Linked DNA regions of Homo sapiens. The protein of the gene in region 1 purifies or fractionates together with the protein of each later gene. This does not show direct contact. Each region holds a gene or a part of one and is shown in the gene's direction. Other genes may lie near its edges.

Evidence for each region. The genes of interacting proteins can lie anywhere in the genome.
Region 2: the proteins of FAM184A (region 1) and PCNT purify together in Homo sapiens (affinity purification with mass spectrometry, with the first as the bait; one large-scale study listed by BioGRID). This does not show direct contact.

What each region holds. Positions count from the first base shown.
Region 1 is NC_000006.12:119,023,165-119,026,664, reverse strand, and holds part of FAM184A (protein FAM184A), read left to right. Parts: intron 1-1,851; coding exon 1,852-2,706; intron 2,707-3,500.
Region 2 is NC_000021.9:46,327,156-46,330,655, forward strand, and holds part of PCNT (pericentrin), read left to right. Parts: intron 1-3,500. UniProt on the Homo sapiens protein: Integral component of the filamentous matrix of the centrosome involved in the initial establishment of organized microtubule arrays in both mitosis and meiosis. Plays a role, together with DISC1, in the microtubule network formation.

The sequences.
Region 1 (3,500 bases):
TTAACGTCGGTCAGTTGTGTCTAAATCCCGAAGTATAGAGTGCAGAAAAGCCCAGCATGTCCAATCCATAATGAGGCATGTCTGACCCCTCCCTTTCAGTCATGGCCTAAACTATTTTTTCAGGTTTCTTTGGGGTCCACTTGGCTAAGAGGAGGGTCCGTTCAATCGGTTGGGGGCTTAGAATTATATTTTTGGTACACTTGTTATATCACAGATCCTTTCAGTCTTTTATGGCCATTTGACTTGGTGGGCGGATATGACCCAAGGGGATGGGAATAGGAAGTCAGTCAGCTTTCTTGGCTTATAAGCTACCTTTATGAGTAAATGTGTAAATGAAGGAGTCCTGCTTGGGATCTGTGTTACCTTATTGGGAACATAATTTGGAATTTGAAATTAGGGTTTTTTAAAAACAGAATGTGAATAAGTACTTCTGTTCACATTTTTTCCTGTAGACTTTGCAAAAAGGGATAGCATGGCAAGACAGATGGGTTCCTGCCATCTCTCAATCTTTTTACCTTTGGTATGATGGCAGACTAAGCGAGTATATGGACAGGGCCACTGGATCTGGAAGACAAAGCCCTATGTGGAGAAAGTGATGCCCCTGTGTTGAGGCAGCCTTCTTGTTTCTTTTGCAAGCACAACTGCTGTCCCAGACAGTGACAGCCTATCTTTAGCGAGTGGGATCTGGAGTTACTGTGGTATTTGGAGAGCCAGCCAGTCTGCCACAGTTACCTCAGGCTGCATGAATAATTTCTCTACAAAAAATGGCAGCAGTTTTCCATCATAACTGCAGTTTCTGGTATCTGATGCTGGAATTCATTTCTAAAGCCAGAGTAATATCACATTAAAATGAGCAAATCTCCAGACACTGATTTTTAGCTGCTGGATTTTTTGATTGTACAGTGTTTACTTCTTTTCGCTTCCGGGGGAAGAAAGTGGGCTCATCTCAAAGCCTTAAATAACAGTCATGAAAATTTCACCGTGTGACCACAGTGGCATGATGGATGGCATCCGAGGAACAGAGGGAAGGAAGGAGAGTGTTACTGTGCAGGGAATTTGTTGTCATTTGAAATTAAGGTTGGGACATCTCAGTGAAATCATTAAAACCTAGGAACTAAAATGAAAATAAAGACCTGTACTCAAAACTCTGGCTTAAGGAATTGGGTTGCTTGGAGGCAGAGAGAAAATTAGCCAAAGAGTAAAACTACAGCATTTGAAATATGAAGAGAAAAAGTACAAATTGGATTTTATAAAGAGATCACTAGAAACTTGAAGAGAGAAGAGGATCAGCTTTAGAAGCAAACTATAGGGGAATTGGGAAAGGAAAGTTTAAAATTTGAAATATTTAAACAGGCCATTACAAAGATAAAAGGCTTTTGGGAAGACTTAGGGCCTAGGGCTTCTCTTCATGTGAAGCCTCTCGTATCTCTAGGACACCAATATAGGGCAGAGTCTTACTATGAGACTTTTTCTCCTGAACACCCCTTCACAGTCCCCGGTAAGCTAGATTGGGACATATGAGAACTCCTTTCTCTTAGGCCAATTGCCTCCTTTGTCCATTTCCTCTTTGCTGTTTCATTTGTAGTAAAAAATAGTCTTAAATTTGAATGTTTTAAAATTATAACTAAAAAGTCTTTAAATACAAATCTTAAGACTGTGCTAAGATAGAAATTTGCTAAGCAAATCAATCTATGAGTAAAAAAACAATTGCATCAAGATTCCATATTTAACATTAGCTGTAGCCAATATTATGTGCATAGAAAAATATCAATCCAAATGAAAGAATTGACTTCAAGTTAGAAAATAATATGGATTCACAATCCTTCTCCCTTCTTATTCAAAACCATGCAGGTAATATATGCTTTAAACACTAAAAATGATGAGCATGAATCTGCAATTCAAGCCCTCAAAGATGCTCATGAAGAAGAAATTCAACAAATTCTTGCTGAAACAAGAGAAAAAATATTGCAGTATAAAAGCAAAGTAACAGAGGAGCTAGACCTTAGAAGAAAGATTCAAGTTTTAGAATCATCATTAGAAGATCACATAAAAATGAAGCAGCAGGCTTTGACAGAATTTGAAGCTTATAAGCACAGAGTTGAGGACATGCAACTTTGTGCAGAAGCCCAGCATGTCCAACGCATAGTGACCATGTCTAGAGAAGTCGAAGAGATTAGAAGGAAATTTGAAGAAAAATTACGGAGCTTTGGACAACTTCAAGTACAGTTTGAAAAAGACAAACGATTGGCATTGGAAGACTTGCAAGCTGCTCACAGACGGGAGATACAAGAGCTATTGAAGTCACAGCAGGATCACAGTGCCTCAGTAAATAAAGGCCAGGAAAAGGCAGAGGAACTACACAGAATGGAGGTGGAGTCCCTAAACAAAATGCTTGAGGAGCTAAGACTTGAACGGAAGAAACTAATTGAGGATTATGAAGGCAAGTTGAATAAAGCTCAGTCCTTTTATGAACGTGAGCTTGATACTTTGAAAAGGTCACAGCTTTTTACAGCAGAAAGCCTACAGGCCAGCAAAGAAAAGGAAGCTGATCTTAGAAAAGAATTTCAGGGACAAGAAGCAATTTTACGAAAAACTATAGGAAAATTAAAGACAGAGTTACAGATGGTACAGGATGAAGCTGGAAGTCTTCTTGACAAATGCCAAAAGCTTCAGACGGCACTTGCCATAGCAGAGAACAATGTTCAGGTAAGTAAAGAATATTATATTCAACACATGGATTTTTTTTCTTTTAAAAATATTTGTTTTGTAGGCTGGAGAGCAGTCTGGCCCACTTAGAATCAGTGGCTTCACACCACTTAGACTTTTTTTTTTTTTTTTTTTTAACTTTTCCTGCTTTTCCTTTGTGAGAAAAATCAATGACAGGATAATTTGTATTACCCTGTAGTTGTTATTTCAGACTTTCAGATATTAGGGGCCCAAAAAGACAAGCTTAAAACCTTGTCTAATTATTGGCTAGGCACAGTGGTACACACCTGTAATCCCAGCACTTTGGGGGGCCCAGGCAGGAGGATCGCTTCAGGCCAGGTGTTAGAAACCAGCCTGGGTGAGTGAGCTTAGCGAGGTAATACGCTGTTCCTGGGGGGGGGGGCGGACAATATTGCTAATTATTTACAAAAGGATTTTAATATTGGGCTTAAAGTTTAAATACATTTTTTTCTTTTCCTTTCACTAATAATGGTTTGCCTGCTAGCTGATATTTAGAATTTGATCAAGAAATTGCTTGCTTTCTAAACCTGAATTTAATAGGGGTATTGCACAAGTCTGGGGGAAAAAAATGCCGGAAGTCCACAAGTTTTGTTTTGTTGGCTTAGAAAATTTCATAGCCATGTTTTTAATATCTGTGCAACATTAGAATGGATTAGAAAGTGTGGAATAGCCTTTCCTGATTGGGTCATGTTTATGAAAACATCAAGTTATAAATCACTAATACTTACAGATTTAAAAATTGGTATATAGTTTAGTATGACTTCTGAATAAGA
Region 2 (3,500 bases), on another chromosome or scaffold:
GTTCATGCCATTCTCCTGCCTCAGCCTCCCAAGTAGCTGGGACTACAGGCGCCCGCCACCACGCCCGGCTAGTTTTTGTATTTTTAATAGAGGTGGGGTTTCACTGTGTTAGCCAGGATGGTCTCAATCTCCTGACCTCGTGATCTGCCCGCCTCGGCCTCCCAAAGTGCTGGGATTATAGGCATGAGCCACCGTGCCCGGCCTATGGTTTTATTCTTAATAAATTTGGGTTTTCTTTTTCTTTTTTTTTCTTTTGTTTGTTCCAGACAGTGTTTTGCTGTGTTGCCCAGCCTGGAGTGCAGTGGTGTGATCACAGGTCACTGCAGCCTCAAACCCCTGGGCTCAAGTGATCCTCCCTCCTCAGCCTCTTAAAGTGTTGGGATTATAGGCATGAGCCACTGCGCCTGGCCCTGTTTTATCTTTATTATGTAATTTTGAGAAGTTTTGGATTAACTACTTGAAGACAAGTGTCAGTTGTTTGCTTTGTAATGGAAGACTGGGAGTTCTTCGTGTGTGGTCGTGTCAGCCCCTTTGATGGGTGTTTCTTGGGACATTTAAAACATAATATTCCTTCACATAGTTGTAAATGCACCTGCTTGTCACATTTGTCTTTTACCTTTTTACTAAACGTGAGATGAAGAGGGAAGGGGTGAAGGTGTTGCAGACATGGTGTGTTGCTGGAGGAGACTGGGTCTGCTGCTTGAGGCCTTGTGAGCTGCAGGGGCACCCCCATGGGCAGGTGTGGCAGGTGAGTGCACACTGAGTCCTGAAGGGGCTGGCCTTCCGGGCTCCTTGGGGGCCTACAAACCTGCCTGGAGGCGGGCTGTCCTTGGGCCTTTTGTATGAATTATGAACGAGGGCCTTAGGTGTTGAGTGTCCCTGCTGCTGCAGCAGAATGGGTGCAGGCTTTGATGTTTGCTAGGATTTGCTGGAAAACTGGTGGCCAAAGGCAGAATCTGGCTCAAGGTCATAATGTATGTATCCTGCTTTACTTAAAAAATTGAGTTGTTGGCAACAGTTAAAATTTGTGTTATTCTACCTACAAATCCTGAATTTTGCTTTTTATCTCTTGAGTGTTTTTGGTTGTTGGGTTGGTGTGTTTTTTTTTTTTTTCCCGTTTTCTTTTTAAGATACAGTCTCTCTGTTGCCCAGGCTGGAGCGCAGTGACGCGAACTCTGCTCAGTGCAACCTCTGCCTCCCAGGCTGAAGCGATCTTCCTGCCTCAGGCTCCCAAAGTGCCAGGATTACAGGATTTCTGCCACCTTGCTGGGCAGAAAGTTACTTTTGATATATTCTGGTTGCATATGTTTTTTGGTTTTTTTTGAAATGGAGTCTCACTCTTTTGCCCAGGCTGGAGTGCAGTGGTGCAGTCCTGGCTCACTGTAACCTCTGCCTCCTGGGTTCAAGCGATTTTCCTGCGTCAGCCTCCCGTGTAGCTGGGATTGCAGGCGCCTGCCACCAAACCCAGCTAATTTTTGTATTTTTAGTAGAGACAGGGTTTCACCATGTTGGTCAGGCTGGTCTTCAACTCCTGACCTCAAGCAATCCACCCACCTTGGCCTCCCAAAGTGCTGGGATTACAGGCGTGAGCCACTGCACCCGGCCCTCTGGTTGCACATACTTTTTTTTTTTCTTTAAGGCGAAGTCTCACTCTGTCATCCAGGCTGGAGTGCAGCGGCACGCCCTCTGCTTCCTGCAACCTCTGCCTCCCGATTTCAAGCGTTTCTCCTGCATCAGCCTCCCGAGTAGCTGGGATTACAAGTGGGCACCACCATGGCCGGCTAATTTTTGTATTTGTTTGGTTGAGATGGGGTTTCACCACATTGGCCAGGCTGGTCTCGAACTCCTGACCTCGTGATCCACCTGCCTCGGCCTCCCAAAGTGTGGGGATTACAGGCGTGAGCCACTGTGCCTGGCCTGCATAGACGTTTTAAAAGTAGTAAGCTGATAAATATATGTGGGAATCTCAGGATCCTATCAGAAAACCATTCCAAACTTAGCACATTTTGTGGTAAATTGTATTTGGAGACTGATGGGTCGTTAACATTAGAAGGCATGGTATAGACTCCTGATTAAACACTCATACTTTGCTGTTTCATCAGGTAGAGACTCTCTTAGTTTCTAACTCTGCTATTTGATGCATGCCTTCATTCAGGAAGATGATCTGATGAAAAGCATTTTGATTTTTGTTTTCAAAACCAGAAGGGCATATACCAGAAAATTAACAGTGGTGGTCAGAAAGGAATAGAGTTGTTGGTTTTTTCGTTGTTATGGTTTTTGGTATTTCCTACAATAAACACATTAGGTTACTTATATAACATTTTTTTTCATTTTAGAATTAACTATACCACTAATAAAACATGTATTTTGGACATCTTAAAGCAATCTATAAATAACAGGCCCATTACTGGTCCCCTTGACTTAGAGATGCACACGCACACTCACTGCACTTGCTGCATTTTGTGTCACCTCCTCGTGACCACAGTGGACAGGACACTTCACCCTCAAGCGTGGGGTGGTGTGGCAGATGTGAGGAGAGGTCTGCTTTCACAAAACTTGGTGAAACAATGGCAAGATGGCCAAGGTAAAGCATTCTGTTACTTATAACTGTTGCTGTGAGTAGTAACTTAACTGTTTAAAGCAGTATTTTAAAAACCAAAAGCTGGTAAAATGTAAGGATACTTTCTCTAGGAAAAGTATGTGCTCCTGCAGCCAGGATTCTTCATGGAATGAAGGCATGGCAGGGCCTGACTGATTTTCATCTCACATCGTCATCCTGAACTCCTCTGCACAGTTACAGCTTGACATCAGCAGAGACATACCTCCTCTTCCTGTCCATTGGCTCTAAAATGGTGGGCAAAGGTCAGGTACCAGTCAGCTTTTTCCACAGAATTCCTGACATTTTAATAAGCTAAACATGCAGTCATCAGGTATTAACCCCTATTGGATCTTGGACATCAGCTTTTTCCCCCTTTTTTTTGAGATAGGGTCTTGTTTTCTTGACCAGGCTGGAGTGCAGTGGCGCAATCATGGCTCATTCCAGCCTTGACCTCCTGGCCTCAAGTGACCCTCCTGCCTCAGCCTCCCTAGTACCTGGGACTACAGGCATGTGCCACCATACCTGGCTAACTTAAAAAAAAATTTGTAGAGACAGTGTTACACTGTGTTGTCAGGGCTGGTCTCAAACTCCTGTGCTCAAGTAATTCTCCCACCTCGGCCTCCCAAAGTGCTGGAATTATAGGTGTGAGCCATCCCACCTGGCTAAAATTTATTTTCTTTATACATGTATAGGTAAACTAAGTAGTATGTGTAGAATAGAGCCATTGTCTTTCTGCTGTACACTAAGTTAGGAATCAAATTTCTTAAGCCATTTTGTCAATTATGTATATAAAAACCATTGGTGCTTTAGAAGCAGATATTTCATTAACTTTTTTCTGATTATATCATTGTACATCATCAGTTCAGTCTAAAAAGGAGTTTTTTTCATATGTATTATAAAA